Homo sapiens: one gene and its partners. The protein of the gene in region 4 purifies or fractionates together with the protein of the main gene of each other region. This does not show direct contact. Each region holds a gene or a part of one and is shown on either strand. Other genes may lie near its edges.

The links. Proteins that work in one complex are often made in the same cells at the same time.
Region 1: the proteins of PCDH12 (region 4) and PTPRS purify together in Homo sapiens (affinity purification with mass spectrometry; 2 studies listed by BioGRID and IntAct, with this or other methods). This does not show direct contact.
Region 2: the proteins of PCDH12 (region 4) and CELSR2 purify together in Homo sapiens (affinity purification with mass spectrometry; 2 studies listed by BioGRID and IntAct, with this or other methods). This does not show direct contact.
Region 3: the proteins of PCDH12 (region 4) and EFNB1 purify together in Homo sapiens (affinity purification with mass spectrometry; 2 studies listed by BioGRID and IntAct, with this or other methods). This does not show direct contact.

Annotation. Positions count from the first base shown.
Region 1 is NC_000019.10:5,222,313-5,225,812, forward strand, and holds part of PTPRS (receptor-type tyrosine-protein phosphatase S isoform 1 precursor), read right to left. Parts: coding exon 3,415-3,500; intron 986-3,414; coding exon 377-985; intron 1-376. UniProt on the Homo sapiens protein: Cell surface receptor that binds to glycosaminoglycans, including chondroitin sulfate proteoglycans and heparan sulfate proteoglycan.
Region 2 is NC_000001.11:109,266,539-109,270,038, forward strand, and holds part of CELSR2 (cadherin EGF LAG seven-pass G-type receptor 2 precursor), read left to right. Parts: intron 1-1,009; coding exon 1,010-1,104; intron 1,105-1,312; coding exon 1,313-1,522; intron 1,523-2,042; coding exon 2,043-2,226; intron 2,227-2,341; coding exon 2,342-2,470; intron 2,471-2,571; coding exon 2,572-2,752; intron 2,753-2,885; coding exon 2,886-3,053; intron 3,054-3,155; coding exon 3,156-3,282; intron 3,283-3,394; coding exon 3,395-3,500. UniProt on the Homo sapiens protein: Receptor that may have an important role in cell/cell signaling during nervous system formation.
Region 3 is NC_000023.11:68,832,021-68,835,520, reverse strand, and holds part of EFNB1 (ephrin-B1 precursor), read right to left. Parts: intron 1-3,500. UniProt on the Homo sapiens protein: Cell surface transmembrane ligand for Eph receptors, a family of receptor tyrosine kinases which are crucial for migration, repulsion and adhesion during neuronal, vascular and epithelial development.
Region 4 is NC_000005.10:141,955,403-141,959,681, reverse strand, and holds the start of PCDH12 (protocadherin-12 precursor), read left to right. Parts: upstream 1-1,479; 5' UTR 1,480-1,830; coding exon 1,831-4,279. UniProt on the Homo sapiens protein: Cellular adhesion molecule that may play an important role in cell-cell interactions at interendothelial junctions. Acts as a regulator of cell migration, probably via increasing cell-cell adhesion.

The DNA of each region.
Region 1 (3,500 bases), on a different chromosome or scaffold from region 4:
GCCCAGGCGCTCCCTGTCGTCCGCTGTGCCCATGCCCACGGCCTTCCTGCCTGGCCCTGGCCCGGCCCTGCCCTGTCCTGTCCCAAGTCCCTGCTTCGGGAGACGGCACGGGTGCAGAGGCTGCAGAAAGAAGGTGGAGGAGGAGGAAGAGGGGGGAGGGGAGCAAGGGGAGGGGGCAGTGGTGGGGGGCGGTGGTGCCACCGAGGCACGTCCCACCTTTGCCAACGCCGGAGCCTCGGGGTCCGGACTTGCCTTGAGTGACCACGAGGAAGCAGAAAAGTGAGCACTTACCTGGGCAGGGGAGAGGGAGGGGGCTGGGGTGGGGGTGGGCGCAAGGCCCGGTCCGGCTCTGGTGCAGGGGTCGCCGCGCGCCTACCTTGGTCCCGCAGGAACGTCCGGTAGCGGACGGGGGGGCTGAAGGGGCCAGGGCCCCGGCGCGTGTGGGCTCGCACTTGGAGGTCATAGGCCGTGTCGGGCTTCAGGCCCTGCAGCGTGAGCGCGTTCTCCGCGCCCGGCTCAGCCGCTGCCGGCAGCTCAGTCTCTCGGGCAGGGCCCAGGGCACCGGCCTCCCGCACGGCCACCGTGTATTTGACGATGGCCCCGTTGCGCTCGGCGGGCACGGGTGGCAGCCAGCGGAGAAGGACGGTCCCGGCCGAGGCGTTGCCGGCCGCCTCCAGAATCTGCGGGTGGCCACGGGGCGTGTCCTCCGGGATGCTCAGGACCTCGGCTGCCTCCTCGCCCAGGCCGCCGCGGCTCCGGGCCGCAAGCCGGAACACATACGTGGCCCCCTTGTGCACGCCTGATGCCGTGTAGCGGTCCTCGGAGGGCGGGAACTCCAGGGTGGCCAGGGGCGTCGAGTCCTCACGGCCAAACTGCAGGCGGTAGCCCAGCACCTGGTCCTCCGCGGTGCCAGCCGGGGGCTCCCAGCGTGCCAGCAGGCTGCCCTCGGGGGTCTGCTGCACCGACAGGGTTGGGCGGCCCAGCACTGCGGGGATACGGGGCAGGTGTCAGGGTCCCAGCGCCATCCGCCAGCCCAGAGGCACAAGGTGGGGTTGTATTTTTAATTCTTTTCCTTCAATATAACATTTTTTTGAGTTGGGGGGGGTCTTACTCTGTTGCCCAGCCTGGAGTGCAATGGTGAGATCACGGCTCACTGCAGCCTCGAACTCCTGGGCTCAAGTGAGCTTCCTGCCTCGGCCTCCCAAAGTGCTAGGATTATAAGGCCACTGCACCCAGCTGCGGTTGTGATTTTTTTTTTTTTTTTTTTTGAGACAGAATCTTGCTCTGTTGCCCAGGCTGAAGTGCAGTAGCCCCATCTCGGCTCACTACAAGCTCTGCCTCCCGGGTTCAAGGGATTCTCCTGCCTCAGCCTCCCGAGCAGCTGGGATTACAGGTACACACCACCACGCCTGGGTAATTTTGTATTTTTAGTAGAGATGGGGTTTCGCCATATTGGCCAGGCTGGTCTTGAACTCCTGACCTCAGGTGATCCACCCGCCTCAGCCTCCCAAAGTGCTGGGATTACAGGTGTGAGCCACCGTGCCCAGCCTGGGGTTGTGATTTTTAAAAGTGGATCTCAAGGCTGGGTGTGGTGGCTCACATCTGTAAGTAATCCCAGCACTTTGGGAGGCTGAGATGGGCAGATCATTTCAGGTCAGGAGTTCGAGACCAGCCTGGCCAACATGGTGAAACCCTGTCTCTACTAAAAATACAAAAATGAGCCGGGGGTGGTGGTGCACGCCTGTAATCCCAGCTACTCAGGAGGCTGTGGCAGGAAAATCACTTGAACCCAGGAGGCAGAGGTTGCAGGGAGCCAAGATCGTGCCACTGCACTCCAGCCCGGGCAACAGAGCAAGACTCCGTCTTAAAAATAAAAGTAGGTCTCAAGAAAGCCTCACTTAAGAAGCAAAGACTTGAAAGAAGAAAGAGAGGGAACCACGAGAAGATCTGGGGGAATCGTGCTCCAGGAAGAGGGAACGGCCCATGCAAAGGTGTAGAGCCGGCACTGGGCTAGGGGCGCATAAAGCACAGCAAGGAAGTGAGGACTCAGAGAACCCCTCCTCCTTCCATTAATAAGGCAACCATCTCCTGCCTTGTTGATTTGGCCCTTGCTCAATGCAGGCACCTGACCAATACCCATGGGACATAAAGAAATCCAAAATCCGCCCCTGCTCTTTGTTTCGCACAGCCTGGGTAGTAATCAATGTGCCGAGAGAGGTTCTGGGATCAGGCAAAGAAGGGGGAAAGCTGGGCTGTATACATGAAAATGGACTTCTCTACTGCAGGACTTATCAGGGCCTTGAATGGACTGCTATGAATACCCAGGGTGGTGGGGAGAGCAGCGTATGCAGTGGTTTCTGCTTAGCAAACACAGCTCTAATACAATGTCCCTGAGAGAGGAGGGAAGTGCCCTGCTGGCTAGAAGAAGGGAGGGAGAGATCACAGGAGGCTGCTTGGAGGAGGTGGCGTTAGAGCTGGATGCTGGAGGACGCAGACAAGGTGCGTGAAGGGAATAGTGTGGACAAGGGCAGGGGCTGTGTCCAGCTGGGAGGCCTGAAAGGTGGGGTACACAGTGGTGTGGCTACAAGGGTCCCCGAGGAGAGGGTGGGTGTGGGGACTGGGATGAAGGCCACAGAAGTCAGTCGATTGTTCCTGAAACACCCGAGCTTGTTCCGCCCACCACCACCACCACCACGCCCCACCCCCCAAGTCTTTTTCTGGGCTGTGCCCTCCGCCCGGTGTACCCTCCCCTTACATCTTCACGGCAGCCTCTTTTTCTTAATTCAGCTCCATTTTGGCTGGAAAAAAAAGCCAGCCCCTTGGGGACGATGGAAGGGACAATGGAGGGGCTAGAAGGGGAAACTGAGGCAGGGCCACCAAGAGAAAGGTGGCTTCCTGGTGCAGTAGGGGAAGACAGGTGCACCACCCTGAAATAACAACCTAGCCGGGGCGACCAGAGCCTGGATGGGGGAAGCACAGGAGACTAGGGGGCCCAGAAGGATCAAGATTATGGGATGAGGCAATCAGGGAAGGCTTTCCAGGGCCAGGTGTACCTTGAGCTGAGACCTAAAGGCAGAAGAGGAGCCAGCCAGCAGGGGAAGGGGTATCCTGGCAGAGGGAACAGCCCAAGTAAAGGTTGAGAGGGCAAAGGGGTCAGAGGTGGCTGTTAACTGTTTCTGTCTGGTGGGAGCCGGGGGGACAGGAAGTGAGTGACAAAGGAGGAGGCAGGGGCGGGGGGGGCCAAGCTGGGCCCTGGACACCCACCTGAGCAGCCCTCACACCTTTGTCTCACTGTTCCAGCTGCCTGGTGCACCCTCTGCCTGCCCTTGTGAGCTCAAGGACTCTGGAGTCACGCTCTGGTGCCAGTGGGGGCAAAGGGGCTGTTGGTGGGTGGGAGGAGGGCGGGTTGCATACCTGCTCCCTTGGTCACAACCACCTTGGGTTTGCTGCGAGCGCCATCGCCCTTCATGGTGTAGGCGGCTACCGTGATGGAGTACGCG
Region 2 (3,500 bases), on a different chromosome or scaffold from region 4:
GCCGCCACCACACCTGGCTAATTTTTTTTTTTTTTTTTTTTTTTTTGTATTTTTAGTAGAGACAGGGTTTCACCATGTTGGCCAGTCTGGTCTCGAACTCCTGACCTCATGATCCGCCTGCCTCGGCCTCCCAAAGTGCTGGGATTACAGGCGTGAGCCACTGCACCCCACCACATTTTGGACTTTTTTTTTTTTTTTTTGAGACGGAGTCTCGCTCTGTCATCAGGCTACAATGCAGTGGCATGATCTCGGCTCTCTGCAACCTCCACCTCACAGGTTCAAGCGATTCTCCTACCTCAGCCTTCCGAGTAGCTGGTACTACAGGCGTGTGCTACCATGCCCAGCTAATTTTTTATATTTTTTTAGTAGAGACAGGGTTTCACCATGTTGGCCAGGATGGTCTCGATCTCTTGACCTTGTGATCAGCCCGCCTCGGCCTCCCAAAGTGCCGAGATTACAGGCGTGAGCCACCGTGCCCAGCCCACATCTTGGACTCTTAACAAAAATGCTGAAAAACCTGCACTGTGCTTGGCATAGGGCTGTGCTAGAGATTCAAAGATGAATCATGCAGGGTTCCAATCGTCAGCTCACCACCGAGTCCTGGAGTTACGCCACCACAAAGGCAGACAGTCTGGGGAGTAGGGGGTGTTGGCTGCTGACCCAGGACACCCAGCCCAGGATGGGGGCTGGCGCTGGTCCTGGACTGGCAATGAGCAGGTTCATAGGCAGGAAGTGGCGGAGAGCACAAAGTGGTGGCTGGAGACAGGCAGGATGGGGGCTCAAGGAGGTCGTATGCCCTGTTCCCCTAGAGCCCATGTGTGGACTGATCTTGCGGAGATTTTTGGCCCTGGTGTTCTACATACCTGTCTTCCTGTTTCACCAGGGCCCTTGTTTGCTAGTTACTGTCCCCGGCCCATGAGGTGCTGGCCTCCAGCAGAACCTCTCAGCCAGTCTCAGGGGCTTCCTGTGTGTCTCCCTGAGGCCGGCCCTTTTGGCTTCCTTCCCCCAGGGACTGCTGTGCGCCACTGTGATGAGCACAGGGGGTGGCTCCCCCCAAACCTCTTCAACTGCACGTCCATCACCTTCTCAGAACTGAAGGGCTTCGTAAGTGAACCCCCTCATCTCCATCTTTTCCCTGTCCTTCGTCCTGAGTCTCACTTGCCCCCACTCCCATCTTTGAGAACGGGGCTTCTGGAATTCCAGCCTGTGTGTTCCTGGGCTCCCAGCTGGAGAGGCCGTCTCTCACCTCCTGAGGTCCTTTTGCTCCAGAGTTCCTGCCCTCACTCCTGCTCCTCCGCTCCGTCCTGTCTAGGCTGAGCGGCTACAGCGGAATGAGTCAGGCCTAGACTCAGGGCGCTCCCAGCAGCTAGCCCTGCTCCTGCGCAACGCCACGCAGCACACAGCTGGCTACTTCGGCAGCGACGTCAAGGTGGCCTACCAGCTGGCCACGCGGCTGCTGGCCCACGAGAGCACCCAGCGGGGCTTTGGGCTGTCTGCCACACAGGACGTGCACTTCACTGAGGTGGGGCTTGGAGGATGCAGGGCTGGCTGGTTAGATAGGGGTCATGGTGAGTGAGCCTGCTCATGGCAACCTGGGGGGCAGAGGGGGCCCTCCCATCCCACCTACAAGGAGCTCCCTGCTGGCAGGAGGCCTCCATGAAACCCTGTGACCCCTGGCCCAGCCCTCTTCCCAACCCTTCTCATAGTAACATATGTGTGTTGGGGCATGGTCTGACCCAGAGCAGAGGCCTGCCTGTGGTACCATGGGCTGGGAGGAAGCAGTATCTCAGGACATGTGTGTGGGTCCAGGCACAGGGCTGGGAAGCTCTTATGTAGAGAATGAGGAGGAGGGCTTAGGGGCAGAGCATCCAGTGACCTGAGTGGGCAGTGCGGTCCAGGAGCATTTCAGGGGAGGCAACAGTGAGCACAGAGGGAGGGGCCTGGTGGGGAGCAGGGACTGGCCCGGGCACAGGCCGGGGCTCCATGGTGGGGATGTCAGGTGTGGGTTGTGAGCACACCCACCGTGACCTTGCCCACCCCAGAATCTGCTGCGGGTGGGCAGCGCCCTCCTGGACACAGCCAACAAGCGGCACTGGGAGCTGATCCAGCAGACAGAGGGTGGCACCGCCTGGCTGCTCCAGCACTATGAGGCCTACGCCAGTGCCCTGGCCCAGAACATGCGGCACACCTACCTAAGCCCCTTCACCATCGTCACGCCCAACATTGGTAAGGCTGGTGCCTGGGTTGGGGAGGGGTTTGTGGAGGGAGTCCCCGACAAGAGCGGCTGTGCTGGGGTCCTGCCTGCCTCACAGGTCCGATCTGTGACCATCCCCTTCCTTAGTCATCTCCGTAGTGCGCTTGGACAAAGGGAACTTTGCTGGGGCCAAGCTGCCCCGCTACGAGGCCCTGCGTGGGGAGCAGCCCCCGGACCTTGAGACAACAGTCATTCTGCCTGAGTCTGTCTTCAGAGGTCAGTGGTGGCCATGGATTGAGTTGGGAGCTGGACCCCAGTGTCTGTGCAGACTCCACAGAGAGCAGGGCCCAGCTAAGTGTGACAGTGTCCCCTCCCAGAGACGCCCCCCGTGGTCAGGCCCGCAGGCCCCGGAGAGGCCCAGGAGCCAGAGGAGCTGGCACGGCGACAGCGACGGCACCCGGAGCTGAGCCAGGGTGAGGCTGTGGCCAGCGTCATCATCTACCGCACCCTGGCCGGGCTACTGCCTCATAACTATGACCCTGACAAGCGCAGCTTGAGGTCAGCAGCTAGGGGACAGGTGTGGGTAGGGGTATGGGTCGGGCGGTGAGTGCTGAGGCATGGAGGGGGTCGGGGGCGTCTCCCCAGTCATGTGACTGCCGTGGTGACTGTGCACCTGACTGCCCCACATCAGAGTCCCCAAACGCCCGATCATCAACACACCCGTGGTGAGCATCAGCGTCCATGATGATGAGGAGCTTCTGCCCCGGGCCCTGGACAAACCCGTCACGGTGCAGTTCCGCCTGCTGGAGACAGAGGAGCGGACCAAGCCCATCTGTGTCTTCTGGAACCATTCAATCCTGTGAGCCTGCACTGCCCTCGCCCCCTCAGGCTTCGGGCTGAAAGTCCAGGCCCCTGCATGCCTCACCCTCCTTGTCTCCCTGACCCTGCCTTCCTCACACAGGGTCAGTGGCACAGGTGGCTGGTCGGCCAGAGGCTGTGAAGTCGTCTTCCGCAATGAGAGCCACGTCAGCTGCCAGTGCAACCACATGACGAGCTTCGCTGTGCTCATGGACGTTTCTCGGCGGGAGGTCGGGCCCACAGGGGCAGCTGCAGAGCCGTGGGTGGGCACCCAGGGCACGGGGCTGGGTGCTCAGGTCCTGCCCTTCCTAATTCCCTGGCCCCCTGCCACCTACTCTGCAGAATGGGGAGATCCTGCCACTGAAGACACTGACATACGTGGCTCTAGGTGTCACCTTGGCTGCCCTTCTGCTCACCTTCTTCTTCCTCACTCTCTTGCGTATCCTGC
Region 3 (3,500 bases), on a different chromosome or scaffold from region 4:
AGCCAGTGAGAGTGAAGGCCAAAGCTAGGTAGAACACTAGTCATACTTTAAAGGGGGACCCTACAGTTCTCCCCTCTTACCAGATTAGGAGTAGGAGTAAGGGAAGAGGAGGAAGAGATATCCCGAAGTGAAACTCTTTATCCTCCACCTTACTTCCCCCCACCCTAGGACCAAGCCAAGCTTTTCTGTCTGGGGCCACCCCCAGACAAAGCCCTTTTCTGAAAAATAAAGGGATTGACATGGCTCAGCAGGAAGCCTGAAGCAGGTCACCATGGTAACCCCTGAGGCCTTCCCTCTCCAGCCTCAGATAGCCCTGGGACCCCAGGGCGCCACCCCAGGGAGTAAAAGGACTTGGGGGAGGCGGCCTAAGCTATTCCAGCTCTTCCCCCTCTACCCTAACCCAAGTTCTACCTTCAGCCTTTCTACCTAGCTTAGAAGCACCACGATGCCATCACTGCCACAAAGAATCCTGGGATATGAAAAGCCTGAAGGGGTTGGGGACAGTAGCCTCCAAGGCCCTGGACTGGCCAGAAACCAACTAACCAACAGCCCCCTCCTTGTTTTCTCCGGATAAGCCCTTCTCCACCCATGTGAATACAATTTACAGGGGGCAGGGAGAGCTTGCAGCTAGGAGGGTCTTGCCCAGAAAGCTGCCCACATCCCACCAGGTCTATACTTCTTTCCCTGTCACCCTGCTCTCAGGCTCTAGCAACTTGTGGTCAGAGAATGACCAAAGGGGGAGCCTGGTTCTAGGCCATGCAAGCCCAAGTCTGGTAGAAGCCTCTAGCCTCAACCTCGATTCAGTGACCCCACGACCACTGCACCTGCACCTCCCAGGGTGGCAAGACCAATGGAGGACAGACCCCAAGCCAGAGCTCAAGTCTGTTCTCATCCCAGCTAGGGTGGGGAGCCCCCAAATTAAAGGCTCCTCTTTAACTCCCCCAGCTCCACCCAGCCCCCGAGGCTGGCAGGAGCAGGCCTGGCATGTCCCAGCAGTGCCCGCCCAGGCGTGGGTGGGCAGGAACAGCAGCTGGGTCCTGGCACACACAGCTCTGTCAGAGGCAGGGAAGCCAGGAGAGTCCTGGAGGAAGTCACCCTCCCCATCTACACTGAACTATGCCCTTCCCTCTGCCCCACCTGGCTAAGGCTCGTGTCCATTATGAATTTAATACCCCCCCTCCTCGATGTCGATGTCTGCTTTCTGTGGGGTCCCTGAGAAGAGAGATTCTTAGCTCAGAGAGGAACCAAAGGTGCCACTCAGAGCTCCGCAGGGAGTGTGCCAGGCAGTGAGTTGGCTGCCTTTAGTTCAGGTCACCCAAGCAGTCAGCCCTGGAAGGTAGGCCTAGAAAAGTCAAATGAGGAAGTTGGAGCACTGCTCACCCCACACAGACAGGGCCTGAGTCACAGGGACAGATGCTTGCACACCTGCGAGGTAAGAGGGGAACTCAGGGGCAGGGAGCCAGGGCCTCTTCCCAAACCCCACCTTGAATTCCTGTCTCTCCTACATTTCAAGGCAGCAGGAATGAATGGCACACAACACAGCTCTGCCCCCATAGGCAAGTCATTGACTGGCCTTAGACAAGTCACTTCCCTTGTCCGGGCATATGCCTTCTTATCTGGAAAATGGGACCAATACCTACTTCCCAGGGTTGTTGGGAGCATTCGATGAGATCATATATGAGAATGCATTGTAAGTAGCAAGGTGCCGCCTGCCTATTAGTTAGCATGCCAAACACAGCATTATTTAGAAGTAAAAAGCTGAAGGAGCTTACATTCCTGGCTGCTAGCACCCTGACCCAAAACAATGATCGTGAAACACGCCCAAGAGGGGCTGCTATGGTCTGCGGGGTAAGGAACCCAGAATGTGGCTGGTGAGCACCCCCGTATCTCAGCTCCTCTAATAGTCACAGAGTGGACTCTCCCCCAAACCTGGTGTTCCCATGGCAACTAGCAGCCTCCTGGCTGGCCCACTCTATCTCCTTTAGTCCCTAACCCCAGAAAACAGTGATGCACCATAGTATCCAGGGCCCACGCATCCCCATTCACCTGAGCGGATGAGACAACAGAGAGCCCAAGGGAAGAAAGGGAACCCTTGATTCAGTCCCCACCCCAGCCTCACAGGTCCTTCTTGCCCTTGCCTGGCTGCCCTATGTGGGAGAGGGGAGGCAGGGGAACAGGGGACTTTAGGAGCTGCTGGATTCCCATCACTCTCAGGCTCCCACCTGTGGCCAATCAGCCACAAAGTAGAAGAGGTCAGGTCCCTAACCACCCCGGAAAAGGGCCCCCTGAGCTGGCCTCCCCAGGACTGTGAGCTAGAACAGCTGTGTGGGGCTGGGGCCAACACTTTGGCTTGGAGCAGGCAAGCATGGGTTGGGGTCTGCAGCTGCCCCCACCCATGCTGGAGTCAAGGGTCCTGGATGCCAAGCTGAACCCCCCCACCCCCACCCCCTTGTAGGGAATGTTTGTAATGTGATCTCAGGCACATTCTGACTCCCTGGAGGTGGGGGAACCTGAGTGGGGGGCAGGAAGGGGTCAGGACGGGACTGAGAGACTGAACTGCAGCAGCTGGACTTGGCTGAGGACTCAAGTGTGAGGCCTGCCGGCTGCCCCAAGTTCCCAGGGGAAGAGGCTGCGGGAGGGGTCGCCTAGGACCATTTAGATAACAGCCCCCCAACTCAGACACACACACACACACACACACACACACACGCACACACAGAGGTTCCTAAAAAAAACTCTAGCAGGACCAAACCCATCCCCCCACCTTGCGCTCATGGGGCAAATCTGACAGGAGGGGCCAAGGAGGCAGAAGCTCCTGCCACTCAGGGACTAGCATCCCAGAAGGCCCCAGCACCAATTTGGGAAAGAGGCTTGGGAGTCTTGGGCCAGCCATTCCCGCTTCCCCTCTCAGTCAGGGCTGGGGCCGGGCCGCACGCACCTTGGAACCTGGAAGCGGACCCCCAGCCCCACCACTTCTTTTATTTTGATTTTTTTTTTCCCAAGAAGGAAGCAATTAAGCAGGGTTTATAGGCACTGGGAGATTTTCTTTTTTGGGAGGGGGGTTGCCAGCTTCTGACAGGGCTGAGGAGAGAGACCAAAAGCCAGGAGAGGAAGAGGGGAAGGAAGAGAGAAAATGAGCCTGAGAGGGAGAGCACGGGCATGTGCGAGAAACAAAAGGACTTGAGAAAAAGAGGCAGAGAGTGACTAAGAGTGAGAGGGAGTGTGAGAGCAAGGCAGAGCAGGCGAGCCTAGCTGGAGAGGGGAAGTGAGCGCTGCTCGCGGAGGGTATGAGAGGGCGAACTGACACGGGCCTGAGAGGAGAACTCGGGCAGGAGGCAGAGAGGGAGGGAGACAGAGAGGGACTGTTTATTTGAAAGGCTGTGGCAGCCTGAGGGTTGGGCGCGGTGGCAGAAGCAGCCCCCAAAGCTCAAGGAGAGCTGAGGGCAGTGCCTCCTTCCTGTCCATTTGCCCCCACCACCCCGAGCCAACACATGTAGACA
Region 4 (4,279 bases):
AGAGAAAGGGAAGGAGTGCAGGTGACTGTCCCTTAGCCACCCCAGTCCTGATGACCACAGGCCTCCATGCCAATAAGCCCTGACTAGTGCCACTTGGGTCCAAACATGGCATCTCTGGCCCCAAGGGCTTAGTAGCAAACACCCATCTAGGGAAGCTGGCGTTCATTCTCATCACCTCAAATGCTTCATGAGCCTCAGGGATCAACCTTGAAGTGGGTATAAGGCTGGGAGAATGTTGGGGGCAGCAAACTGAAGGGCACAATAAGAAGCAATAAGGCCACCTCAAAGCCCACCCAAGCAAACTGCTCATTCACCTCCTTCCTTCCTGAATTTCACCTTATGAGGAGGTGAGTGGAAGATAGGGTATCCCTTAAAACATCTAAAAGGAGAGTTGGGGGCAGCAAAGGAGATGTGCTTCACGGGACTCTTATAAACAAAACTGGGGAGAGAAGAATTGGAGGAAGGGGGAAAGACATAGATGAAAGGGAGGGGAAGGTGTGGGAGAGGGAAACGTATAAAAGCTTCCAAGAGGAGTGGGAGGCTGGGGGTTCCCCAGACAGAGACTCAGTCTGGACCAGATGCAGAGAACAATGGACTTCAAGGCTGGAGGGGGGCAGAAGGGAAGCGGGAGGAGAGCCACACGGTCAAGTTGCACAGGTTCTTGCAGCTTCTGGAATCAAGACCATGGGCACCCTCATAAGTCAGTGTGGGCAGGGACTGCCCCAGGGCCAATCCAAGATCCAGAGGTAGCCATAGGGTGTGACAAGTTGTGCAGATTACAACACTCACCCCTTGCAATAACGTCACTGCCTGTGACTCGGGGCCAGGCCCAGGCCAAAGCCCTTCCTACATCATTTCGTTTAATCCTCACAGTTTCCTGCTGAAAGGGCTACTATTCTTACTCCCATCCCCACTCTACAGATGAGGTAATGGAGGCCCAGGAAAGTTAAGTGACTTGTCCCAGATGACACCGCTGGTAAGTTGCAAAGTCAGAATTTGAACTCAGGCAGTTTACCTCTGATGGCTGCTCTGTTAATCACAGCTGCTTTCCAGTGAGACAAAAACGGGTGATCAGGGCAGAGTCAAGACAGAGAGGTAAACAAGATTGGGAAAAAGACAGGAATGAGAGGGGAACAATGGGGGAAAAGATAGGAACAAAGAGAGTTGGGGAAGGGGAGAGAAACAGGAAACATGACTTGCCCGGGAGGGGCATCAGTCCACGTGCAAGCAGGTGGAGGCTCAAGTTTTCTGCTCACTTGGTGATGCAGAGGCTCCCTTTCCCTCAGCAGCCGCCTTGCTGCGTGGACAGCAGCTTCCCATCTGGCCTGTCCCCGGAGCCCCGGCCTCATCCTCCTCAGCGGCAGGCCACTTAGCTTCACAGGAAATGCTCTTTCTCTAATTGGCATTGAAACTCACAGCCCTCCCTTTTCCTGTAGGTGGGGTTTCCATAGGAAAAAGCTGCTTCTCTGTTTCCCCAGCCTAGCAACTGTTTGGCAGTCAGAGTCCCACATCCTGCTCAACTGGGTCAGGTCCCTCTTAGACCAGCTCTTGTCCATCATTTGCTGAAGTGGACCAACTAGTTCCCCAGTAGGGGGTCTCCCCTGGCAATTCTTGATCGGCGTTTGGACATCTCAGATCGCTTCCAATGAAGATGGCCTTGCCTTGGGGTCCTGCTTGTTTCATAATCATCTAACTATGGGACAAGGTTGTGCCGGCAGCTCTGGGGGAAGGAGCACGGGGCTGATCAAGCCATCCAGGAAACACTGGAGGACTTGTCCAGCCTTGAAAGAACTCTAGTGGTTTCTGAATCTAGCCCACTTGGCGGTAAGCATGATGCAACTTCTGCAACTTCTGCTGGGGCTTTTGGGGCCAGGTGGCTACTTATTTCTTTTAGGGGATTGTCAGGAGGTGACCACTCTCACGGTGAAATACCAAGTGTCAGAGGAAGTGCCATCTGGTACAGTGATCGGGAAGCTGTCCCAGGAACTGGGCCGGGAGGAGAGGCGGAGGCAAGCTGGGGCTGCCTTCCAGGTGTTGCAGCTGCCTCAGGCGCTCCCCATTCAGGTGGACTCTGAGGAAGGCTTGCTCAGCACAGGCAGGCGGCTGGATCGAGAGCAGCTGTGCCGACAGTGGGATCCCTGCCTGGTTTCCTTTGATGTGCTTGCCACAGGGGATTTGGCTCTGATCCATGTGGAGATCCAAGTGCTGGACATCAATGACCACCAGCCACGGTTTCCCAAAGGCGAGCAGGAGCTGGAAATCTCTGAGAGCGCCTCTCTGCGAACCCGGATCCCCCTGGACAGAGCTCTTGACCCAGACACAGGCCCTAACACCCTGCACACCTACACTCTGTCTCCCAGTGAGCACTTTGCCTTGGATGTCATTGTGGGCCCTGATGAGACCAAACATGCAGAACTCATAGTGGTGAAGGAGCTGGACAGGGAAATCCATTCATTTTTTGATCTGGTGTTAACTGCCTATGACAATGGGAACCCCCCCAAGTCAGGTACCAGCTTGGTCAAGGTCAACGTCTTGGACTCCAATGACAATAGCCCTGCGTTTGCTGAGAGTTCACTGGCACTGGAAATCCAAGAAGATGCTGCACCTGGTACGCTTCTCATAAAACTGACCGCCACAGACCCTGACCAAGGCCCCAATGGGGAGGTGGAGTTCTTCCTCAGTAAGCACATGCCTCCAGAGGTGCTGGACACCTTCAGTATTGATGCCAAGACAGGCCAGGTCATTCTGCGTCGACCTCTAGACTATGAAAAGAACCCTGCCTACGAGGTGGATGTTCAGGCAAGGGACCTGGGTCCCAATCCTATCCCAGCCCATTGCAAAGTTCTCATCAAGGTTCTGGATGTCAATGACAACATCCCAAGCATCCACGTCACATGGGCCTCCCAGCCATCACTGGTGTCAGAAGCTCTTCCCAAGGACAGTTTTATTGCTCTTGTCATGGCAGATGACTTGGATTCAGGACACAATGGTTTGGTCCACTGCTGGCTGAGCCAAGAGCTGGGCCACTTCAGGCTGAAAAGAACTAATGGCAACACATACATGTTGCTAACCAATGCCACACTGGACAGAGAGCAGTGGCCCAAATATACCCTCACTCTGTTAGCCCAAGACCAAGGACTCCAGCCCTTATCAGCCAAGAAACAGCTCAGCATTCAGATCAGTGACATCAACGACAATGCACCTGTGTTTGAGAAAAGCAGGTATGAAGTCTCCACGCGGGAAAACAACTTACCCTCTCTTCACCTCATTACCATCAAGGCTCATGATGCAGACTTGGGCATTAATGGAAAAGTCTCATACCGCATCCAGGACTCCCCAGTTGCTCACTTAGTAGCTATTGACTCCAACACAGGAGAGGTCACTGCTCAGAGGTCACTGAACTATGAAGAGATGGCCGGCTTTGAGTTCCAGGTGATCGCAGAGGACAGCGGGCAACCCATGCTTGCATCCAGTGTCTCTGTGTGGGTCAGCCTCTTGGATGCCAATGATAATGCCCCAGAGGTGGTCCAGCCTGTGCTCAGCGATGGAAAAGCCAGCCTCTCCGTGCTTGTGAATGCCTCCACAGGCCACCTGCTGGTGCCCATCGAGACTCCCAATGGCTTGGGCCCAGCGGGCACTGACACACCTCCACTGGCCACTCACAGCTCCCGGCCATTCCTTTTGACAACCATTGTGGCAAGAGATGCAGACTCGGGGGCAAATGGAGAGCCCCTCTACAGCATCCGCAGTGGAAATGAAGCCCACCTCTTCATCCTCAACCCTCATACGGGGCAGCTGTTCGTCAATGTCACCAATGCCAGCAGCCTCATTGGGAGTGAGTGGGAGCTGGAGATAGTAGTAGAGGACCAGGGAAGCCCCCCCTTACAGACCCGAGCCCTGTTGAGGGTCATGTTTGTCACCAGTGTGGACCACCTGAGGGACTCAGCCCGCAAGCCTGGGGCCTTGAGCATGTCGATGCTGACGGTGATCTGCCTGGCTGTACTGTTGGGCATCTTCGGGTTGATCCTGGCTTTGTTCATGTCCATCTGCCGGACAGAAAAGAAGGACAACAGGGCCTACAACTGTCGGGAGGCCGAGTCCACCTACCGCCAGCAGCCCAAGAGGCCCCAGAAACACATTCAGAAGGCAGACATCCACCTCGTGCCTGTGCTCAGGGGTCAGGCAGGTGAGCCTTGTGAAGTCGGGCAGTCCCACAAAGATGTGGACAAGGAGGCGATGATGGAAGCAGGCTGGGACCCCTGCCTGCAGGCCCCCTTCC